Linked DNA regions of Homo sapiens. The protein of the gene in region 1 interacts with the protein of each later gene in a biochemical or structural test. Each region holds a gene or a part of one and is shown on either strand. Other genes may lie near its edges.

What was found. Proteins that work in one complex are often made in the same cells at the same time.
Region 2: of the proteins of DMD (region 1) and TRIM63, one has a biochemical effect on the other in vitro, tested with the Homo sapiens proteins (one study listed by BioGRID).
Region 3: the proteins of DMD (region 1) and SNTB2 interact in a test that uses a peptide from one of them, tested with the Homo sapiens proteins (one study listed by BioGRID).

Annotation. Positions count from the first base shown.
Region 1 is NC_000023.11:32,360,718-32,368,960, reverse strand, and holds part of DMD (dystrophin), read left to right. Parts: intron 1-3,761; coding exon 3,762-3,941; intron 3,942-4,250; coding exon 4,251-4,379; intron 4,380-6,002; coding exon 6,003-6,173; intron 6,174-8,243. UniProt on the Homo sapiens protein: Anchors the extracellular matrix to the cytoskeleton via F-actin. Ligand for dystroglycan.
Region 2 is NC_000001.11:26,056,819-26,065,061, forward strand, and holds part of TRIM63 (E3 ubiquitin-protein ligase TRIM63), read right to left. Parts: intron 4,517-8,243; coding exon 4,348-4,516; intron 3,544-4,347; coding exon 3,448-3,543; intron 1,806-3,447; coding exon 1,572-1,805; intron 833-1,571; coding exon 810-832; intron 510-809; coding exon 385-509; intron 1-384. UniProt on the Homo sapiens protein: E3 ubiquitin ligase. Mediates the ubiquitination and subsequent proteasomal degradation of CKM, GMEB1 and HIBADH.
Region 3 is NC_000016.10:69,294,733-69,302,975, reverse strand, and holds part of SNTB2 (beta-2-syntrophin), read right to left. Parts: intron 3,387-8,243; coding exon 3,202-3,386; intron 2,145-3,201; coding exon 2,052-2,144; 3' UTR 1-2,051. UniProt on the Homo sapiens protein: Adapter protein that binds to and probably organizes the subcellular localization of a variety of membrane proteins. May link various receptors to the actin cytoskeleton and the dystrophin glycoprotein complex.

The sequences.
Region 1 (8,243 bases):
ACACAATCTTGCTTTTTCTTCAGCCCTAAAATCGATCCTAGCAGCAATCACATTACTACATGACTGAAAAACCTAAAGTGTCTGAGTTATAATTTAGTGAATTTAGTCATTGAATTTGAACTTGCTCCTTCAGAAGAGTAGATCTTCTAGAACCCTCTCCACTTCTCACCTCACAAGGCAGAAGAAGGCATGTATGCTGAGAATCGGATGCTTTTGAAAAGGAGGAAATGCCATATCTTTTCAGCTGTTTCTTTCCATCTCGCCAACCCTATAAATAAGGAGCTCCCTTTGAGAGGAATGAGTACAGGTATAAAGACAATGGCCAAGGCAATAGCTCTAGGTTGGTTCTCCATACATCTGAAGATGCAGACATTCTTGTGTTGTGGGAAACTATTAGAGCCAGAGAAAATGGTTCGTCAACAACCTCATCAAATGTATTCTTTTAGTTTACAGTAAGAATTCCCTGTTCCTCTATGGCAGCCTTGTATTCTAACTTTCATACCTTCTCGTTGCTTCGTACTTTGTCTTTAGTCAATCCAAACCATCCCATGCACACTCCGCCTTCAAGTGTCACCTTTCCCTTGTAGTCATTCATGCTTATTCCAGCCATGGCTCATCTGTTTCCAAAAAAAAATGTGATTTTTTTCTAGTATGATATCAAATTGTTTTATTGCATTTAAGCTTTCCTCTGCAGCTACACTGTAGGCATGATTAGAGTGAGGTTTGCAAAGATTACCTCATTCCTCATCTCTGGCAGTGAATAGCACAGTACAGACTGGATATTAGGCACCTGATATACATTGGTCAATTAGTATTTCAGATCTCCAGAAAGCAAGCTCAGCATAGTATTTAAAGGCTAAGTCTTATTTAAGTCTTATTTCTTAAGTCATATCTTTGATTAAAAACACATTTGAGGGAAAAATTTAAGGCCTACTAAATTAACACAATATTTTTTCCTAACCCAAAACAGCATGTATACAAATGATTGAATACTGGTTCCTTATTGTTGAATAGCATACATAAAAGTTTAACTCTAGGTCTCTTTTTTTACAGAGTGTAAATTGTCCTGTGAATCACTTTTGACCATTAGCAGTTATAAACCACCATCATATCACTGCTTTTTTCAAATACAAGTTGATAATGGTGATAAATTGAACATCTTTTAGTTTTAATTTATAATTTTGTGGAACTTAAGAAGGCACTAGAAATTAGTCCACATTTCCTATTTTGTTCCCATCAACTGAACATCACTGGACATTGTTTAAATTAGCTGGAGGAATTTGGCCAGATGTTGACACATAATGGTTTCTGTGACCCAGGAACTACCTGCAACATTATCCCCTAAGTTCAAAACTTTTGTGATCTCTTCTGAGTTTTGGAAAATTCCATTGCCTTTAATTGCATTGCTTGTCATGTAAGAAACAAAATCTATGTACACAATAACTTTTTACATTGATGCTAAAATATAGTGTCATCTTTATGAAGACTTATTAAGAGATAATTAGTAATCCAAATATAAATTAAGCTTCAACTTTGTGAAGGGTTACCTTTGTGAATAAATCAACTACAGCGAGATGCCAGTAGACTGGAATATAGAAAGTAGATAATTCTCATTTGCGTATATGTCCATCTCTTTGACAAACTCATACTTGGATATAAGTTTTTGAAGGATGGGGACTTCTCTACCGTTTTATCCCACAGAGCCTAGTAACAATGGCTAACATCTATGGTTGTAGAGGTTGTATACTACAAAAGGTTGAAGTCAAAGTATTAAAAGGAATAAAATCTAGTCTATGTCTACTCTGAAGTTAAGCTCTAAAGGGTCTGTATCTACCCAAATGAGAGACTTCTAATAATCTCCCAGAATATATTGAGGAGAATTACATATGATTCTGCTACAGTAGTAACTGGCATATAATAGGAGCTCAGGCAACACTTACGATTGATAAATGAAGAAATTGCTTTTATGAATTGCTAAGCTCACCTGTGTGCAACAAATAGCACCTACATATGAAGAACCCCATGCATGATAGCTGTCGAGTTCATCTGGCATTAAGTACCTTAATTTCAGGCATGTTTTTATTGAAAAAATGTGACATAAAACCATATCTTAGAATTGAAGAAACAGTGTTTTTGTCTTGCATAAAAATTTTTATACATTGTTTCCTCATTTATTTCTCCTGTTTATCCGATGCCAAAGGCAAAACCAAAACAGAAAGTATGAGAAGTGATTTCGAGTGGACCAGGACCTTATGGCGTGGCAGAAAGACAGCCACAGGACTACTTAGGTATATTATAAAGATAGAAAAGACATGTTGAGAGTGACTCTATGAGGCCAGCCTATACCTAATTTCTTACTCTTGTACTGTAATTTTTTTCTTAAGAAATTAGATGTAGGCTGGCATTACAGAGCTGCTCCTTGTGTGTTTATTAATTGATTATTTGTATCTGGACTTTCTCCACTTTCCTGTTATTGCTGTTTCTCAATGATTTTGTTTTGCTTTGGCTTTCTGTGATTAAGACATCAGCTCCACTCGCAAATAGCTTTTCAACTCGAGTGCCAATCACAGTCTCTGTATCTGTTAACCTTATTGAGAAAGGAGAAAAAGGGTCTGTTGGGCTCTGGCTCAGCTCTCTGTGAATGTCCCACAGCTGGCTAACTAGACAGGCAGGGAAAGAACCAGGCACAGACTCAGTGGAATGCCGAGTGGCCACATTGTCTGTCAGCCGTGCCATGTACCAGGAAAGGGGCTTTATGCAGGGCAGGTAGTAAACCTTTGTACTAAGATCACTTTTTCCATCACTACTCTCTATCTTTTTTCATGTTAAATGTGATTGTTTTCATGTTTTATAAATCACCTCTTAGGAAATAGTGGTATTCTCTTAGGAGATTTTAGTCTAGGGTATGTGGATAGAAATAAGGTCTGTGAACTTGGATTGGGGGAAAACTTTATCTTTATTTGTATTCAATTAAAACCAAAAGTAAGCAGTTTTTTCAGTTAAAATGTGAGCAACAAACTCCAGCAATAGAGATACCCATGACTTTGTCACTAATAGAAATGACAGATACTTTTATAACGTGTTCCAGACATTGTACATACTTAAAAATACCAGTTATGCTCGTCATCACTACATTGAAATTATCCTAAAGACCTGATGCTAGATCTTGTTAATTAACATATTAGGAAATAAAACATGTATTACTACATCACAAATATTTAAAAAATGTGTTGCACATTGTATTTCAGTATAATTGTTTTCATTTAAAATCCTATGTATTTTGTTTTATGCATTTAAAAGCATTATTATGAGAATGGGTTTTTAAGCTTCAACAGATGCCAAAAAGATCCATGGCACTAAAAGGCTAAAAAAATCCCTGCTGCAGAAATACAGTAGCACCATACTGTAGAATTTTCTAAGGGCAGTTTCTTATTTGTGGATGGATTTTCAAATATCTGCCTTTAGCCACTACATGTATAAATTAAATAAATATAAATATATTTAGTTGAACAATATGTATGTTTATTAAATATTTATAATGAAAAATAAGACATGAATTATGCTTATGTACATATATATGTTCATAGTTACCCAACAATGAAGCTTCAGTATATATGGTATGGTTTTCATGATTCATTAATACATAGTTATAGGTTTAAAACCTTGCAGAATCATAGTAACCATACAGAAAGCCGTTTCATAAGCATTAAATCTTAAGACTACAAGACATTACTTGAAGGTCAATGCTCTCCTTTTCACAGGCTACTCAAAAAGAGATTGAGAAACAGAAGGTGCACCTGAAGAGTATCACAGAGGTAGGAGAGGCCTTGAAAACAGTTTTGGGCAAGAAGGAGACGTTGGTGGAAGATAAACTCAGTCTTCTGAATAGTAACTGGATAGCTGTCACCTCCCGAGCAGAAGAGTGGTTAAATCTTTTGTTGGTAAGAGAAAAGGCTAGAAGCTTTTACACCCTTCTCTGTCACGAGAAAAAGATACATAAGTGACCAGTAACAATTCTGTGTTTGAAAATTTCTCAATTCTACGTATATGCTGGCTCTTAATTCAATATCTATAACAATATTTTAATATATTTTTCTTTATATTTACGCAATATTCTATATGAAAATACCACTTAAAACTAATCTCAATGAAACTTTATTGTTGTCTTTTAAACATTTTAGAACATAGGAAAAATTCTTTAAGAATATTGTCTAACCAATAATGCCATGGTATGTCTCTGTACAATTAAGGAATACCAGAAACACATGGAAACTTTTGACCAGAATGTGGACCACATCACAAAGTGGATCATTCAGGCTGACACACTTTTGGATGAATCAGAGAAAAAGAAACCCCAGCAAAAAGAAGACGTGCTTAAGGTAGCAAATAAAATATGAAAAGTAATGTCCAAATTGTACACCAGTTACTTCAATCATCTTTGTCCTAAAAGATACTAAGGACGTCTTAATAAGAGTAAAACAATCCTTTCTTCCTTCCTTTATCTTTCCCTTTTTCCTTCCTTCCCCCTTTGAATGGAAATGAATGATTTTGAAGAGTTCTGTAATCTGACTTTCTGTTCAAATCCATCACTCAGTTAATTATACCCAATGTAAACTCCGTTCAGAAAGATATTCCAAGATTTATTTTGAAATCATATTGCAAATTTCTGCCTTTGTCAATGGTGGTACTACATTCTTGTGTCTAACACAAAGAACAATCTGACACTATCATTCATTTAGCCCATCTGAATGAACACCTGAAATCCAGTCAGCTGATTTTTTTGCCTATGCCATATCCAAATCTTGGTAATTAGTCTTAATGTTGGGCTTATGTAAAGCTGAGGTTTTCATTTTTAACTACATGTAAACTAGGCTTTGGGTTCTTTCTTTTAGTCTCAAAACTGACTGTTAGGATGCCCTGTCTTCTTTTTCAAGGGGAACTTAATCTTTTCTTTAAAAAATGATTCCGATAAAAGGGTATGAGAGGTGTAATACGCAAATATACCTTATAGACACTACATTGTTTCTATTTGATGATGTCTCTTTTCCCAATTAAATAGGTAGAGTTGAATTTTAACAGCTCTCTTTTCAATAAACATTTTTTATTTTGTTTTGCTGCAATGTTTGATAAATTTATTGATTAGTTGTTTACTATTTAAAGAAAACTCAAAAATTATGTTTCTTTCTATGCAATTTATTTTTATGCCTCTGATATTTTCCACAGATTACGATATACCTTTAATGAAAAACTATAAATTCATTCCAGGCTATCCCCAAAACACATTTATGCCATTGTCTGAAGCTTATTTTGATGTGGATCTGTATTGTGCTCTTCATTATCCCTTGATGTATAGTCAGAGATGTCATCTTATGGTGAATTTCCTTCAAGGCTTTTTGAATAATAGGGTCTGAGTTATTTAACTTCAACCTCTGTGACCCGGCAGGTCAGGAAGAACATTCCTCAGTACCTCTGTATGTGACAGAAAATTCGTATGTGTTAGAAAATCACTTTTTTTCTTATGACACTCAATGTAATAAAGAGGAACTTGAAAGTGCTAGGAAGGAATAGAAAAGTGTTCTTCAGCTACCTGACCTCCTGAGCACATACTTAGTTCATTCCACAACTATTAAATTCAGTAACGATATAATAAAATAAGACTAAATAGAATATATTATGATAGTTGCAACAACATAGTTGGGAAAACATCCCTGTCCTTCCTCGGACTAAATAAACATTTTAAATAGACATGCATCAAACTTAAGGACGGTGATCTATTTTTCTGAAATCACACGCATTTTCATTTTAGTCCTGTTTTATGGAAGTTGTGGTTTTATCTCCCTTTGTATTTTCTGCATGTGCTTGCTCTCATTTTCTTACTTTCTCTCTCTCTCTTTCTCACTCTTCTCGCTCACTTGCTCACTCGCTCTGTTTGGCTCTCTTTTTCTATCTTGACCTTCATTAATTACTAACTTCAAGTCCTATCTCTTGCTCATGGAATATAGCGTTTAAAGGCAGAACTGAATGACATACGCCCAAAGGTGGACTCTACACGTGACCAAGCAGCAAACTTGATGGCAAACCGCGGTGACCACTGCAGGAAATTAGTAGAGCCCCAAATCTCAGAGCTCAACCATCGATTTGCAGCCATTTCACACAGAATTAAGACTGGAAAGGTAGGAAGATCTACTCCAAGGTGGAAACTTGTGCTAAATGGTCTCTTGCGAAGGTTGCGCAGTACTCTGAAAGGGGCAAGTAGACCCCACAGCAAGGTTTTCAAAAGGAAAATGAATGCCAAAATGTATTTAAGGAAATTTTACCACTGATTATAATGGGAGATAAACGCCACTCCTCCCCGTCTCTGTCTCTCTCTGTCTCTCTCTGTCTCTTTTTCTCTCTCATCTTTTGCTGCCATAGATATTCTAGGACTGCATTCTATGCTGCAGTTTACATACGTACTTTCAGGGGTCACCTACAGAAAAAAATAACAAATAGCATGCTGAAGGCCAAAAAAATAAATAAAACCAAAAGCACACAAGTCATCCATCAACATAAAGCACTACCGATAAATTTTGCCAAAAGCAGTACTGATACAATATTGCTTGTATGTAATGTGGATCAAATATCCAAAATGAGGTCTTGTACATCTTCTGCACGGTCTAGGGTGTTTTTTTACCTCTTTACTGGTTGTGCAAGTGTGTTTGTTTAACTTGCTTTTGCTAGTTGTAGACACTGTGACAAAATTCATTAGGCTATAATGAAATGATCACGCCATGAAAACAAATCATTGCAAAGCTTACATATCCTAATTTTTGTAATTTTATATGCCTATTTATATTACTGTTTAAGAAGAACCAGGGAATATGGAACTTTTGCGTGATAGACTTTATATTTGTGTATGATTTGATGAAGAGAAAGTCTTATTTAATAAGTAGTTTGCAAAAATGTATAAATATAGTGTTATAGAATTTCAGCTCTTTGGGAAGATTTGAAATGCAAGTAATTACCTAGAAATTTATATACTGTAGTTTGATAAATTTCAATATATATGATATGCTTTCAAACATAAAAATGTATATAAAATCAATATATGTATTTAGGTATATAGATAATTGTTAGAAATAATCTGAAATGAAAAAAACATTGGAGTATTTATGAGAAAATATGATGCAGTATGTCAGGTAAGTATTGATTCCTGGAAAAATAGAACATTTTCAAAAAATATTTTGATAGATATAAGCAACCAGTAATAGCATGGTTTCACAATTGCTGCACTTTCTAAGGCATTACAGTGTCTCATCATGTTATATAATAGTACATATTTAAAGTAGTTTTCAAAATAAGTGAAATGTGACATGATAAATTCTAAATAGTTTAGCTTGTATGCATGAGACACAGTTACCCTTCAAAATTCACCTTCCCAAATTAAAAAGTTGTTAGTTTACCTTAATTCATTGCAAGTTATTTTTAATAGTTAACTACTTAGTTCTCTTGTACTCTCTCTCTCCATACATAGAGACCTTATATAGTTGACTTTTAAAAGGCTATATTCTCTACATATGGAGAGAGACAGCATGAGAGAACTTAGTAGTTAACTGTCACAAATATATATATTTGAGTCAGTCATTATTACCTGCAAAAAAATGTGACAGGCTCTTAAAATTGATTAAAGTTTTGAAAGAATGTATTGTTACTTACAAAGACAATTGTTTTTACTTCTAAAGATATCAATGGCTTATGTAATAACAAGACAATGAATGGAGATTTATTTCAATCCTTAAAAAATGCTACTACTTCATTACTAAGATATAGACACACACACATGCACATTTTAATAAATCACTAAGCTATAGAATATTTAAGAGAAAATAAGGTATTATCTTTGGATAAATTGTGTTACAAGATTGTGGTTCACAGATATTAAAAAATGGGTAGAATTTGCTCTCCACCACAGATGTGACAGACCCAGCCAATACAAGTTTGTGACCAAGACAAGTTTGTGAGTTTTCATTTCACATTCTGCATGAATTTGTAAGTATACTTCTGGAAATCATGCATAAAGTGATCCACTCTATGAACTTCTTTTATTTTCCCTAGAAACATAAGGCATAAGAAATTTCCAGTGAATATTCATTTATTATTATTATTATTATTATTATTATTTTGTGTGTGTGTGTGTGGTGGAGACTCTCTCTGTTGCCCAGGCTGGAGTGCTGTGGCATAACCTCAGCTCACTGCAACCTCTG
Region 2 (8,243 bases), on another chromosome or scaffold:
GTGGCACAATCTCGGCTCACTGCAACCTCTACCTCCTGGATTCAAGTGATTCTCCTGCCTCAGCTTCCCAAGTAGCTGGAATTACAGGCACATGCCATCACGCCTGGCTAATTTTTGTATTTTTAGTAGAGATGAGGTTTCACCACGTTGGTCAGGCTGGTCTCAAACTCCTGACCTCAAGTGATCCGCCCACCTTGGCCTCCCAAAGTGCTGGGATTACAGGCATGAGCCACCACAGCCGGCCAGAAGTTGGCTATATGAGTTTGATTGATATTTGGGGATCTTTATTAGTGTATCTGCCTCCCCATCGGGCTCAGTTGGAGGGATGCTGGTTTCCAGGGGTCAGGCAGGCAAATAGACAAGTGGCATCACCACCTCCTTTACCTGTCCCAAAGTCAATGGCTCTCAGGGCGTCTGCTATGTGCTCTAAATCCAAAGTAAAGAAGTCCATGTTCTCAAAGCCCTGCTCTGTCTTCCCCAGCTGGCAGCCCTTGGAAGCTTCCACAATGCTGCAGGGGAGACAGAAAGAGAGGCAGGATGAGGTCTCTGGGGCTCAGTGCAGGGAAGAGAGGGCACATGCTTTGCCACGCCCAGGCCTTCTACCCAGAGGCTCCCCTGGAGGGATGGAGTATTTCCTCTCCAACCTCAAGCACAAGGAGTGGTCCAAAAAGTCAGGGATGCAAAGGGTCAGGGAAGCCAGCCTAGAGTGAGACCCTCCCAGCAGGCCTAATGCCCAGGATGAGGCTTCCTGGACAGAGGTCCTGGTGGGAACTAGGTGCTTGGATCATAGCCTCTAGGAAGACACTGACCTTTTGATGAGTTGCTTGGCAGTCTGCAGGGGGAGAGAGAACAAAGGATTAGGACCGCAGAAGAGGTAACCGCAGGAAATCAGCAAAACTAGTGAACTAGGTGTTGTAGGTAGATATTTGGTGCCATTCCCTAGCCCAGTTGTGACCTGCTCCCCACCCCAAACTGAGCAGAATCTGGAACTTTTCCCTCTGTCTGTGGTCTGTACAGGTCTTGGTCATCACCCTAGGACCCACTGTCTTGACAGGAAGCTTGGATTCTAGGGGTATCAATCCCAAAACTCCTAAACCCTGAACTCCCCAATCCTAACCACCTTTTCATACCTAATGTCTAGCAAAAAGCCTGGCCCACAGTAGAAGCCTAGAACATTTTTATTGAACTGAACTATGAAGTCTTATAACTGAGCCTTTTCTGTCCTCCCCAACAAGCTCTTTGAGGGCAGGGCTGTGTCTGGTTTATCTCCTTGTCTTCCACCTCAGTGCCTGGCCTACAGTAGGGGCTCAATTAATAGTCTGTAGATGGGACACTGTATTTTGCAGCTTACAAAGTCATTTCATAAACATCCTCTTATCTTATCATCATAAAATCAGTAAGAGGAAGGTGGGGGGTGTTACATGCCCATTTGACAGATGAGGAAACTGAGGCTCACAGAGGTTTAAATGGCTTTTCCAAGGGCCCATGGGTGGTCAGTGGGGAAGCATAACTTGAACCTTAGAGCTGTAGAGTTGAACTGACCCCACCCAGACCCTTCTAGTCCTGCTCACCAAGAGGAAGGTGGCTCCCCCAGGCTCGTCCAGGGACTGGATGGCAGTTTCCACCAGCTTTGTGGACTTGTCCAGCTGCTCCTGGTACTGCTGGATGAGGGCCTCGATGAAGCTAAGCTTTTTCTCCTGCTCCTGCGTGATCCGCTGCAGCAACTCACTTTTCTTCTCATCCAGGATGGCATACAACGTGTCAAACTTCTGGCTCAGCTCTTCCTTTACCTGGTGACTGTTCTCCTGAGGACGGAAGTCTTGTGGTCACGTTCTGTAGGGTCTTTATTCCCTGCCCACTACACTGCCTTCCTAGGACAGTAGCAAGGAATCTAAAGCTAGAAGAGATCTCACTACATACATCCCCACACTACAGAAGAAGAAACAAAGACTTAACAAGAAGAAAACACTCATCTGGCCTCACAGCTATTTAGTACGCCAGTGATATTTGGAGGATGATGCCTTGAAAAACAGCTAGCCCCTTCTTCCAAAATAGAGGCTCTAGGGTCACATGACACAACATGTTCTTCCTTGTTCCTGCACCCTCCCCCTGTCCCCCAACCTCAGCTGGTCATTGGAGCATCACCTCTTAGACCAATGCAACAGTCACCCAATGTGGGATCTGCCCTGTCTTTCTCTGTTGCCCTTTTTTTTTTTTTTTTTTTGAGATGGAGTCTCGCTCTGTTGCCCCCGCTGGAGTGCAGTGGTGCGATCTTGGCTCACTGCAACCTCCACCTCCCAGGTTCAAGCGATTCTCCTGCCTCAGCCTCCCGAGTAGCTGGGATTATAGATACGCTACCACGCCTGGCTATTTTTTTGTATTTTTAGTAGAGATGGGGTTTCACCATGTTGGCCAGGATGGTCTCGATCTCCTGACCTCATGATCCACCCAGCTTGACCTCCCAAAGTGCTGGGATTATAGGCATGAGCCACTGTGCCCAGCTCTCTGTTGCCTTTTAGCTGTGTTTCCCTTTTAGCTGTGTGACCTTCAACAAATTAACGTTTCCTGGGCCTCCCATATGTCCCAGTTCACACTCTTCCCTCCCTTTCAGGACCAAGACTGGATTCGGGAAGCTCTGCATCATTTGGTCCTAGGAGAGGTGGAAAAACAGCTCCTTTCCTAGCACCCTCCTCAACCGAAGCTCCCTTCTCTCTATGTTCTTTTCTATAAAATGGGTGTGACAATAGCATCTCATCAGACCGGGAGCCTCTCGTGGGTGATCACAATGTTCCCCTCCTTCCTACCCTTCGCCCAACTCTTCATCCACTAGCAATTATGATGACCCCTTCCCCTCATCTCATCTCCAGATCCCTACCCCAAGTGAACATGGAAAATCGTGGAAGCTTTTTTCAGGGATAGAAAAGTTCCCTTCTGCCCTCAACAGTCTCACTACTCAACATGTGGTCTGTGGACCCAGCAGCTTGGGCAAATCCTGGGAACTGGCTAGAAATGCAGCTCTTATGCCTCATTCCAAACCAACTGAATCAAAACCTGAATTTCAACATGATCCCAGCGTAATTTTCACGCACTTCAAAGTTTGGGAAGTGTTGGTCTACAGCACACTGAAGAACTGTGCTCTGAAAACAATTTGTGCTGAATAAATACTGAGAATTATTGATGGGACACTCCCTGAGCTCAGGGACCACGTCTGTCTGGTTCACTCCTCCATCCCCCACATCTTGGGTGGGGCCGGACACACAGCTGTGCTTAAGAAGCATTTGTTGAGAGACTGGATGAATGGATTAGTCCCTCCCCTGCCATCCCTGCTTGACCGCCCCAGGCTCCGGGCCCCAACCTTTAGCCACAACCTATGGGTGAGCCTTCCCCAGAGACCAGGCTGCCCTGGAAAGCTCCAAATCCCCAGGCAGGACTATTCTGTCCGCTCACCTTGGTCACTCGACGGGAATCCTCCAGCTGAGTGATGATGGTCTGCACACGGTCATTCCCCGCCACCAGCATGGAGATACAGTTATTCAGTTCAGTCTAGATGGGGGTGTGGGGGTCAGGAGAGGAGAGACACAAATAGCCTCAGGGCCTACCCACTGGGGCATGGCAGCAACATGGCTTCCTCCCTCCCCTCTCTGCTAGAAAGAGCCTCCAGTAGGGATCTGGCCCCTCTTTCGGGTATAGCTCAGCTCCAGAGTAGAGGATATTAGAAAGATACTGCATCCCTTATTTTACAGGTGAGGCCAACAGCAGGCAAGTGAGCTGCCCAAAACACACAGCAAGGAACTGACAGAGGAGGGGCTTGTTTCTAAGAAAGAAGGGACAAAAAAAGAAATAGAGTTGGAGACGTCTAGAAGAGAGAGACCTAGAGAAGAGTGGGGAGTAGGGAAGAGAGAGTATGGAAAGGGGGTGGCTACGGCTTACTGCACGGACAGGGTGGTGGGCCCTCACAGGCCCAGGGACCCAGGGAGAAGGCTCTAAGCTGCCTCCTGCTGTGGGGGAATGTGAAGTCTTGGAGAAGAGGTGAGAGGCACAGGAAGAGGTGTCTGGGGGATGGAGAAGCCGTGGCCTGAGAGGACCCCAGTGGCCTGGCTGGGGCGTCTGACCGCTCCCCTGTGGCCACACCCAGGTGCTCTCGAGTGGCTCTAAGTATAACCATGAGCTCAGCTGCCTCCCCTAGGAAGGCCAGGGCTGCTGTCCCTGTGGCCTGGGAAGTCCCTCCAGAGAGACTATTCCTGAAAGGCCAGATCAGCAGATCTACAGGGATCAAATCTGCCTCCTGAATCATCAGGCCGTGCCCAGCAGGCCCAGGCTGGGGGTAAAAGTGGCTGGAGACAGTACCTTTTGTCCCTGGAAGACACTCTGCAATGGGGCCACCTCGCAGGCCTTGTGGATCCCAAACACCTTGCACATGGAGCAGGTGGGCACCTCACACGTGAGACAGTAGATGTTGATTTTCTCATCTTCGTGCTCCTTGCACATGGGGTGACTGCCCTTCTGCAGCGGCCGACTGCAGTGGAGAACAGTCACAAGTCATGGGGGTCCTGTGTCCCTGCATCCCCCTCCCCAGCTCCAATGCACCAGTCGCAGCTACTGGGGAGGCTGAGGCAGGAGGATTGCTCAGCCCAGGAATTCGAGGCTGCAGTGTGTCTGTGAATCTCCAGATTTATGCCCTGGGCCCTCAGTGTTTGGCTGCCCTAAAATCTTTCATCTTCTGGGGACCAAGGACTTGGGAAGCCAATGACACCAAATCTGTCCCCACATCCTAAGAGGGAGTTAGCCTGAGGCTCTGCCAGTGCCAAGGACACAGAAAGGGCCATAGAATTCCAGAGTCAGACCTGGAGATGTTTTAGAGAAGAGGAAACTGGGCTCCAGAAAAGTGAATTGACTCGTCCAAGGTCATACAGCAAGTAAGGGCAGAGGAGCCTAGAGTTCAGTTGCTCTAATTATAGTCACCTTAGCTTTGGTTACTGCAGGCTGGGCTCTGAGCTGAGAAATTTATACTGATGGCCTCATTTAATTCTATATTTAATCTACCAGACTGTAACCTCCATCAAGGTAGGGAAACTTGCCTGTTTTCTTCACCCCTGTGCCTACACTGTACAGTGCCTGGCATAGAGGAGGTGGTAATTAAACAAAGGTAGAAAGAATAAATCAATAAGGCTGGGCGCAGTGGCTCACGCCTGTAATCCCAGCACTTTGGGAGGCCGAGGTGGGAGAGTCACCTGAGGTCAGGAGTTCAAGACCAGCTTGACCAATATGATGAAACCCCGTCTCTACTAAAAACTCAAAAAAATTAACCAGGCATGGTGGCATGCACCTGTAATCCCAGCTACTCGGGAGGCTGAGGCAGGAGAATCACTTGAAACCAGGAGGCAGAGGTTGCGGTGAGCCGAGATCGCACCATTGCACTCCAGCCTGGGCAACAAGAGCAAAACTCCGTCTCAAAAAAAAAAAAAAAGAAAGAAAGAAAGAAAGAATAAATTAATAACTAGCATAGGAATCAATAATATTCACCATCTTGAATTTATTAACATTCTCCATAAGAAAACAATTTTTTTAAAAAAGAATATTCACCACAGAGTCAGTCATACCCTCTCTCTTTCTCTTAGCTTCACCACTTTCTAGCTGTATGGCCTTGGATAAACCTCTGACCCTCTCTGAGCCATGAGGTTGCCCCTGAGGCTCAGAGAAGGAGCAGTGTGTATGCCCCATGTCATGGTGACTGGTGAGTGGGTAGCCCAGGGCTGTCCAACAGCCCAGCACAAGCCTGACTTCTAGTCCAGAGATTCTTTCAAAGGCCCAAGTCTCTTCCTCTACTTTCTCCCCTAACACATATGCTTAGAACTACCTTTCTTCCTTGAGACCTCCAACCTGTTATTTGTGCTTCTCTTGGGACATCAGTCATTTCCTAACCTAGATTCATTGGGGCCTGGGGGGGATTTTTTTGTTGTTGTGTTGTTCTGTTTTGATTTTTTGCCCAGGCTGGAGTGCAGTGGTGTGATCTTAGCTCACTGCAAACTCCACCTCCTGAGTTTCTGATGCCTCAGCCTCCTGAGTAGCTGAGATTACAGACGTGCACCACCATGCCCAGCTAATTTTTGTATTTTTTAGTAGAGATGGGGTTTCACCATGTTGGGCAGGCTGGTCTCAAACTCCTGGCCTCATGTGATCCACCCACCTCAGCCTCCCAAAGTGCTGGGATTACAGGCGTGATCCACAGCACCCAGCCTTTGTTTGTTTGTTTGTTTGTTTGTTTGTTTTGAGACAGGGTCTCACCATATTGTCCAGGCTGGAGTGCAGCAGCGATTCACAGATACACTGCAGCCTCGAACTCCTGGGCTGAGCAATCCTCCTACCTCAGTCTCCCCAGTAGCTGCAACTGGTGCATACCACCATGCCTGGTGTAGATTCGATTTTTTGAGTCTTCTGTCTCCGGCTAGACTATACACTCATTGAAAGCCAACACTACCTTCGATTCCCAGCCCCAAACAGAACAGGCATCTTGCAAATGTCAAATGGTGACTGTTCCCATCAGTGTCAATGCCTCACCTCCAAACAGCCTTACATGACTGATCACACCCTGGGCTCTATTGTCCTCTGAAGTTCTTAAATATGCCCCTTTCCAGGCTTGTCTTTTTGCATAGTTTACCCCAGGGTCCCTATGCTGGCAGGGGTCTGCCATTGCCACCTGCCTCCATCCCCTGATAAAGGGATGGCAGGGAGTGCAGAGGTGAGGCAAGAGCCTGAGGGTCTGGTTCATGCGCCCGCAGCCCTCCCAGATGCCCACCCTCCCAAGCTCAGACTTTGGCATCGGGGTTCATATCCAGATTGTTCTCTTACATTCATTTTTGTGATTTTGGACTAGTGATTTCACCTCTCTTGCCTGTGGGATTCCTCCCAGAACTACTGCAATCTGTCTGTAGAAATTGTCTATAATGAATGTAGAGTGCCCGGCACAGAGCAGACCCTCAATAGAGGGCAGCTGTCATTGTCATTCAACTATGCGGAAAGGCCTCAAAGGTTCACATATAACATGCTCTTCATAGGTCGGCACTGGGTAGGCTAACATTGGTGTGGAATTGATTTTATTATTCCTTATGATCAACAATATGTTTGCATTTTGTAGTGTTGTGCTCTAGCAACATGAGAGGCAATCTAGCTCAGCAATTAAGAATATTCACCGGCCGGCCAGGCGCGGTGGCCCACGCCTGTAATGCCAGAACTTTGGGAGGCCAAGGCGGGCGCATTACCTGAGGTCAGAAGTTCAAGACCAGCCCGGCCAACGTGGTGAAACCCTGTCTCTACAAAAAATACAAAAATTAGCTGGGTGTGGTGGTGCACGTCTGTAATCCCAGCACTTTGGGAGGCTGAGGCGGGCAGATCACCTGAGGTCAGGAGTTTGAGACCAGCCTGGCCAACATGGTGAAACCCTGTCTCTACTAAAAATATAATAATTAGCTGGGCACGTTGGCACGCATCTGTAGTCCCTGCTACTCGGGAAGCTGAGGCTGGGGAATCACTTGAACCGAGGAGGTGGAGGTTGCAGTGAGCCAAGATCGTACCACTGCCCTCTAGCCTGGGCAACAGACCAAGACTCTGCCTCAAAAAAAAAAATTAAAAAAATAAAAAATATTCTCACACCCTCTCTCTCTTAGCTCTACCACTTGCTAGCTGTGTGGGCTTGGACAAATCTCTGATCCTCTCTGAGCTTCCATTTCCTCATGGTAAAATGGAGACAGGAATGCCTTCCCGGGTTACTATGAGAAGCAGATAGGAAAAATGCCTGAAAGTACTTAGAACAGCGCCTGCACACAATAGGTACCCAATAAATGGTTGATACATTAACCATTTTCCATTAATATCTTATTTGACAGCCACAATAACAGATCTTACTGTTTCTGTTTGCAGACAGAGGAAATGAAGCTCTAAAGGCTTACCCAGCATGGTACAGTACATTAGTCACAGAGGCTGACTAGCAAGCACAGTTCCCCGGGTCAGGGTTTTTTCACCTGAGATCTGGTCTGTCACCTTCCCCTGGGCTGGGCACTGCCTGCAGGCAGATGCCTTGGTGAAGGCTTTGGACCTTAAAGGCTGTGAGGTCAGCACTCCTGGAGTCTTACCAGGATGTCCTGATTTGTAAAGATCTTTCCTGGAGCTGTGTCTCTCCCAAATTTTTGTGTTGTGTTGTGTTGTGTGTGTGTGTGTGTGTGTGTTTAGATGGAGTCTCACTCTGT
Region 3 (8,243 bases), on another chromosome or scaffold:
CCTAGGAGGTGGAGGTTGCAGTGAGCCGAGATCATGCCACTGCACTCCAGCCTGGGAGACAGAACGAGACTCCGTCTCAAAAAAAAAAAGAAAAGAAAATTTATCTCAGATGGAGCCAATCTTAGGTTTATGAACTTTCAAAACATAAAAAGCTCTTGAAAGACATATTCTTGTCTAGATTTTAATTTCCAGTTTTAAGCAGTTCAGATAATTCATTTTTGGAACTTTGACAATTATATGAAGCTGGGGGAAGAACAGGCATCTCTCCCCAACCTCTGCATATTGTTGGTTTCACTGTAATGAGGAAGGAGGACTGACTTATGGGTGAAGGAGGACAATGGAGTTACAATGTTGACCTAGAACTCTCTCTGCTCATGGGTCCTCCCCATCGGTCAGGCCGCACTGAAACCAAATAGCTCATTTTGCACACAGGTGTGTTTTTCTCTTCTTTTCTCCCCCTGTGCCTGCCCCATCTGAAGTGACACCCTCCTCCACCCTCCACAGCGCTCACATTCTTCCGTGGCACTCTTGATCAATCAAGCAAACAAGAACTTTCCCTAGACCTTTCTTCAGAGAGCATAAAGAACATCCAAGTCAATATTACCTATTCTTTGAGATCCAGGGACTGTGCTAATTTTGACATTTTATATGATATTATACCATTTTAAATGTTTGCAGATATATACCACCTTCAAAATTAGGAAAAACAAGCTGAGTTCATTTTCTAACACTACAAAATCAGCATTCTTGCTGCTACTGTGTCCTAATGATATCTGGCAATCTTAACCAAAAGCAGGTAGCTGTTCCACGGTCTCATCACCCTGCTCACTGTAGGGTGTGCTGTGAAGCCAATAGTAAGTCTCGAATTAGCAGTTGCTTGTCCATGCCACTGCTGCCACAAAGGGCCAGGCCACAGCCAGGATGCTGCATCCTGTTGTTTTTGGGCAGCCCAAAACAATTCAACATGACGTTTGTGCGGAATTGCTGGCTTCACCCACCAAGTCTACTCCTCAAGCAGGCTGGCTCTTTAGGATTTATCTTGTTCAAACAGATCTGCCTACTAGAAGAGATGCCATTAAGGAAACCCACCTCAATGACTATTCCTCAAAACTAGGATAGGTGATCTCCTGGAAATGGCAGTGATTTCCAGTTATTCAAATAGTGACTAATAAAGCTCCACTAACCCTAACCAAAGGCACATTTGGTAAGCAATAAAAAAAATGGCTTAACCTAGGAAGAGGATTTTCATTTAAAATAAATCTTATCCCCTGGCTCCTAACAAAAATAAAATTGGAAAAACCTAAACCAAGCAAAACTTTTCTTTAAAAGCAGTGGCTTCCAACTTGCTTTTCAACTCAGTCACCACTAGAAAGGAAGTAGAAGGCAAGGCAAATCAAATTTACAAGTTCTAAGTCCTAGAGACAGTGGCAAAGCTTGGGATAAGGTGGGAAGTGATGGCCAGGCTGAGATAGAGGGAGATCCAGGGCAAATGGAACAACCCTTTGGTGATACAATTCAAGGACTTCCTATGGTGGAAGGAGCTAGTGAGGACAGTAAATTCCAAGACATACGACCTATCTGGAATGCTCAGGAAGCAACAGGCTGCTGCAAGCTAGCACCTGGGAAGGGACAATTGTTCTGAACAAGAGATCAAGGCTAAGCACAACACAAATCCTACAGGGAGAAGAAAAAGAAAACAATGCTTGGGTATTTGATTATGTCTAAAAATGAAAACAATGAAAAAAAAAGAAAACAATGAGCCATTCTTTTTAGCAGTAGAAATAAACCTAATTACTCATAAACCATATTTTGAAATGAGAATAAATCAACAGCTTCATTTTGGAGCCTTTTAGAGTGCTAGAATATCTGGCCAAGGTAGACTGTGAAAGGTAGGCTCTTCTTTAAACACGGTTATGGTTCAGCAGTTATTTGCAGGTCCTTGGGAAGGCACTGTGCTGAAGGAGAGCAAAGAGTTTCTTTTTGTGCTTTTTTTTTTTTGAGGTGGAAATATTTCTTGTGACAGTCAAGGCTCTTTTCTGATTTTTTGTTGCTCATACAAGCAGTCCCATACGAGTGACTTTGGCCGATAAAAACGTGTGCAACACAAATACAATCGGCTTCGGACAAGAGTGCAGGTCCATGGTCTGTGGAGAAAGGACACTAAGCATCACTACCTCACTACCATATACAGACAACTTAATAAACGAAGATGCAAAATAAATTTAAGGTAGGTAAAGAATGTGCCAGAGCTATGGAAACTCTTAGGAACTTAAAGCCACAGGCAAAAGTGCACTATGGAGTAAGGTTATTCCATGTCATAATACTGGTGTGAGGTTTCACATCCCCAATTAGGAGACAACTGGTGGTGTACTGGGTTTCACCATGCCTGGTAGGAAGAACTAAATAGTAGAGGATTTAAAATCTAAGGCCAGGCACGGTGGCTCACGCCCATAATCCCAGCACTTTGGGAGGCTGAGGCGGGCAGATCATGAGGTCAGGAGATTGGGACCATCCTGGCTAACACGGTGAAACCCCATCTCTACTAAAAATACGAAAAATTAGCCAGGCATGGTGGCACGTGCATGTAATCTCAGCTACTCGGGAGGCTGAGGCAGCAGAATTGCTTGAACCAGGGAGGCAGAGGTTGCAGTGAGCTGAGATGGTGCCACTGCACTCCAGCCTGGGCGACAAAGCGAGACTCCGTCTCAAAAAAGAAAAAAAAAAGAAAAATGACGGCAACAAAAACCAACACCCAATGCCATCTTGAAAACTGAAGAAGAGCAGATACAGTGGCTCACACCTGTAATCTCAACACCTTGGGAGGCCAAGATGGGAAGATCACTTGAAGCCAGGAGTTCAAGACCATCCTGGGCAGCAAAGCGAGACCTCATCTCTATAAAGAATATAAAAAATTGGCCAGGCATGGTGGCACACACCTATAGTCCAGTCCCAGTTACTCAGGAGGCTGAGGTGGGAGGATCACTTGAGCCCAGAAGGTATAGGCTGCAGGAAGCTATGATTGCACCACTACACTCCAGCCTGGGTGACAGAGACCCCATCTTTAAAAAAATTTTTTTTAATTTAAAATTTCATGGTTCTAAATGGAATGTCAGTCCATGACTTTGTATATAAGGGGTAAGAAGTAATGAGAAGGAAAGAGAACATCTATTAGATAAACATGTGTTTCAGAAACACTCTTACCAGTTCTCCCTCGGGACCACCAAAATCCAAGTATAGATTTCGGATGCCATCATCAGCAGACATCTTCAGCCTTTCAAAGGGGTAGCGGTACAATATGCTGCTGGAGCCTCCATTTTCCCTTGAGATGGTGAACCCATTTTCATAGTGAATAGTAAGCCTCACCTCTTGGCCATTTAACATGCAGCCTGTTGAAGAAAAGCAAAAAACATTAGTTGTAAAGTTGCTATGTCAGTTATCAAGTGAAAAGGGAATCTTCTGACTTCAAAATAGGAAAAATATTTTCTTGAGAATGTGTGATACCTAACCTGTATGGAAACTTCTAAAGTGTGTTTTGTGCTAGGCGTGGTGGCTCACGCCTGTAATCCCAGCACTTTGGGAGGCCGAGGCAGGCGGATCGCAAAGTCAGGGGTTTGAGACCAGCCTGACCAACATGGTGAAACCCCGTCTCTACTAAAAATATAAAAATTAGCTGGGTGTGGTGGCGGGTGCCTGTAATCCCAGCTACTCAGGAGGCTGAGGCAGGAGAATTGCTTGCACCCGGGAGGCGGACGTTGCAGTGAGCCAAGATTGCACCACTGCACTCCACCCTGGGCGACAGAGCAAGACTGTCTCAAAAAAAAAAAAAAAAGAAGTGTGTTTTGTTTTGGTCACTGAGATGAGGCAGAAATGACCATAACACTCCTTGACATCTGTTCGATTTAATTCCTCGAGTACCCACTGAACACTCATACTGGCAAGTGTGTGTAGGCTGTGCAAGGCACTAGAGAAGTAAGAGGCACAGTCCCTGCTCTCAAGGACTTTGTAAACTCATTGGCATAGACAGGAAATCCCCAATTGTGTAAGGCAGAATGTACAGAACATGAGCAAACACCAAAGTGAATGAGGCCAAAGTCAAGAAAAGGTTTCCTGGAGGAGATGGGCCTTCAGATAGGCCCTAAAGAATTGGTAATACTGGCCGGGTACGGTGGCTCACACCTGTAATCCCAGCACTTTGGGAGGTCGAGGTGGGCGGATCACTTGAGGTCAGGAGTTAGAGACTAGCCTGGCCAACATGGCGAAACCCCGTCTCTACTAAAAATACAAAAATTAGCCAGCCATGGTGGCACATGCCTGTAATCCCAGCTACTTGGGAGGCTGAGGCAGGATAACTGCTTGCACCTGGGAGGCAGAGGTTGCAGTGAGATGAAATCACGCCACTGCACTCCAGCCTGGGTGACAAGAGCGAGACACTGTCTCAAAAAAAAAAAAAAAAAAAAAAAAAAGAATTGGTAAAACTGGACAGGCAGGGAGGAAGAGGCAGAAGGACTGAACTGGGCAAGAAGGACCAACCAAAGGAGCAAAGGCAGAGAGGCCTTTCAGGAGCCGTGACATGGTTTGGTTGGCATTTGGGATGAAGATAAAGATTATGTTCATCAAAGTTAAAGGCTATACTCAGCAAAAGTCACAGTCAACGCTATCAAAGATACAATTCAAAGGACACCTCTGAATTGACAGGATACAAACAATTTTGGTCATCAAGACTGGCAAATGCCCCAGGTGTGGTGGGTCATGCTTACAATCCCAGCACTCTGGGAGGCTAAGGCAGGAGGCAGGAGGATCACTTGAGGCCAGGCGCTAGAGAACAGCCTGGGTAACATGGCAAGATCTCATTTCTATAAAAATAAAAAATGTATCTGGGCATGGTGGTGTGTGCCTATAGTCCCAGCTACTCAGGAGGCTGGGGTGGGAGGATCACTTGCGTCCAGGAGTTCAAGGCTGCAGTGAGCTATGATCATGCCACTGCACTCTAGCCTGGGTGACAGAGCAATGTCTAAACAATTTTAAAAAGAGAGATTTAGAGATTCTTTTTTTTGTTTGTTTTGAGATGGAATCTCCTTCTGTCACCCAGGCTGGGGTGCAGTGGCGTGATCTCGGTTCATTGCAACCTCACCCTCCTGGGCTCAAGCAATTCTTCTGCCTCAGCCTGCTGAGTAGCTGGGATTACAGATGTACACCACCACGCCCGGCTAATTTTTTTGCATTTTTAGTAGAGACAGGGTTTCACCACGTTGGCCAGGTTGGTCTTGAACTCCTGACTGCAAGGGATCCATCCACCTCGGCCTCCCAAAGTGTGGGGATTATAGGCGTGAGCCATTGCACATGGCTTCTTTTTTTTTTTGGAGACAGAGTCTCGCTCTGTCTCCCAGGCTGGTGCAGTGGCGTGATCTTGGCTCACTGCAACCTCTGCCTCCCAGGTTGAAGCAATTCTCCCGCCTCAACCTCCTGAGTAGCTGGGATTACAGGAGCGTGCCACCACACTAGGCCAATTTATGTATTTTTAGTAGAGACAGGGTTTCACCATGTTGGTCAGGCTGGTCTCAAACTCCTGACCTTGTGATCTGCCCGCCTTGGCCTCCCAAAGTGCTGGGATTATAGGCATGAGCCACCGTGCCCGGCCTCCTTTTTTTTTTTTTTTTTTTTTTTTTTTTGAGATAGAATCTTGCTGTGTCACCTAGACTGGAGTGCACTGGCGCAATCTCAGCTGACTGCAACCTCTGCCTCCCGGGTTCAAGCAATTCTCATGCCTTAGCCTCCTGAGTAGCTGGGATTACAGGCGGGCACCACCACACCCAGCTAATTTTTTGTATTTTTTAGTAGAGACGGGGTTTTGCCATCTTGCCCAGGCTGGTCTTGAACTCCTGAGCTCAGGCAACCCACTTGCCTCGGTCTCCCAAAGTGCTGGGATTACAGGTGTGAGGCACGGCACCTGGCCTGAGATTTTTTTTTTTTTTTGAGATAAGAGTCTCACTCTGTCATGCAGGCTGGAGGGCAATGGCGCAACCTCGGCTCCCTGCAACCTCCACCTCCCAAATGATTCTTATGCCTCAGCCTCCCGAGTAGCTGGGATTACAGGTGTTTACCACCACACTCAGGTAATTCTTGTAGTTTTAGTAGAGACAGGGATTTCACTATGTTGGCCAGGCTGGTCTCAAACTCCTGACCTCACGTGATCTGCCCACCTTGGGCTCCCAAAGTGCTTGGCCCCTGAGATTTCTTTTTTCTTTTTTTTTTTTTTGAGACAGAGTCTCTCTGTCGGCCAGGCTGCACTGCAGTGGCATGATCTCGGCTCACTGCAACCTCCGTCTCCTGGGCTCAAGCAATTCTCCTGCCTCAGCCTCCCGAGTAGCTGGGATTACAGGCATGTGCCACCAGGCCTGGCTGATTTTTTGTATTTTTAGTAGAGACAGGGTTTCACCATGTTGGCCAGGCTGGTCTCAAACTCCTGACCTCAGGTAATCCACCCGCCTCGGCCTCCCAAAGTACTGGGATTACAGGCATGAGCCACCGCGACCGGCCTGAGATTTCTTAAATGTTCTGTTTTGGATTGTTTCCCCTGGAGAAGGAAAGAATGGAAAGCAAATGTGACTGTGTGTGATTCTGTGTGTGTGTGTCAAACTTAATGTATTTAGGTCTAGATATTGAGCTTGTTTTAGTTTAAAAAAAATTTTTTTTTTGAGACGGAGTTTCACTCTTGTCACCCAGGCTGGAGTGTAATGGCGTGATCTTAGCTCACCACAACCTCTGCCTCCTGGGTTCAAGCAATTCTCCTGCCTCAGCCTCCCAAGTAGCTGGGATTAAGGCCTGCGCCACCACGCCTGGCTAATTTTTTGTATTTTTAGTAGAGATGGGGTTTCTCCATGTTGGTCAGGCTGGTCTCGAACTCCCGACCTCAGGTGATCCACCCGCCTCGGCCTCCTAAAATGCTGGGATTACAGGCATGAGCCACTACACCCGGCCATAGTTTAAAATGTATAATTAATACCAGATTCTTCTGAATGAGACTGTGACCTGGTCATGTAAATGCTGTGCCAAATCGAACCAATTAAACAGTTTTTCTCTAAACATTGAGTACATCACACCACAGTGATGCAATGATGATTAAGTGCCTGACACCCCTTACCCTTTTAGGAGTAATGAACCAAAGGGAGATAGGGGAAATAAGCCTTTCATTCTGATTTAACAGCTATGTGTGTGTGTATGAGAAGTGGCTTTTTTTTTTTTTTCAGTATAAATTCCCCATTTAGTAAGAGGAGTGGCCCTTTTCTGACGGGATAGCATCTGGGACTTATTAATGGAGCTGTTGCAGGTGGCTCATTATGTCTTGGTTCACTTAGAATGCTTTTGGATGGCTATGTGTCCACTATGCACTCCAATTTATAGATAAGTCAGTAAAAAATTCAGTATGTTGGCTGGGCGCGGTGGCTCACGCCTGTAATCCCAGCACTTTGGGAGGCCAAGGCGGGTGGATCACAAGGTCAGGAGTTCGACACCAGCCTGGCCAATATGGTGAAACCCTGTCTCTACTAAAAATACAAAAATTAGCCGGGAGTGGTGGCAGACGCCTGTAGTCCCAGCTACTCGGGAGGCTGAGGCAGGAGAATTCCTTGAACCTGGGAGGCAGAGGTTGTAGTGAGCAGAGATCAAGATCGGGCCACTGTACTCCAGCCTGGCAGACAGAGCAATACTTTGTCTCAAAAAAAAAAAAAAAAAAAAAAAAAAAAAAATTCAGTATGTTGATTTTGTTTAACAGGGTTGTTACCAGAAATAGAAAAAGACACACAATAGCAGCACAATAGTAAGTACTGAAGTTAAAGGGGTAAAAAACTACAGTTTTGGCTGGGCGCAGTGGCTCACACCTGTAATCCTAGTACTTTGGGAGGCCGAGGCAGGTGGATTGCCTGAGCTCAGGAGTTCGAGATCAGCCTGGGCAACATGGTGAAACCCCATCTCTACTAAAATACAAAAGAAATTAGCCAGGCATGGCAGTGTGTGCTTGTAATCCCAGCTACTCAGGAGGCTGAGGCCGGAGAATTGCTTGAACTTGGGAGGCAGAAGTTGCAGTGAGCTGAGATTGCACCACTGCACTCCAGCCCTCCAGCCCTCCAGCCCGAGTGACAGAGCGAAAAAAAAAAAAAATCAAAAACTACAGTTCTTCAGGTATCAAGAGAGGAAGGTACATAAACACAGGGCTCTGCGGTAGGTGCTTTTATTTTATTTTATTT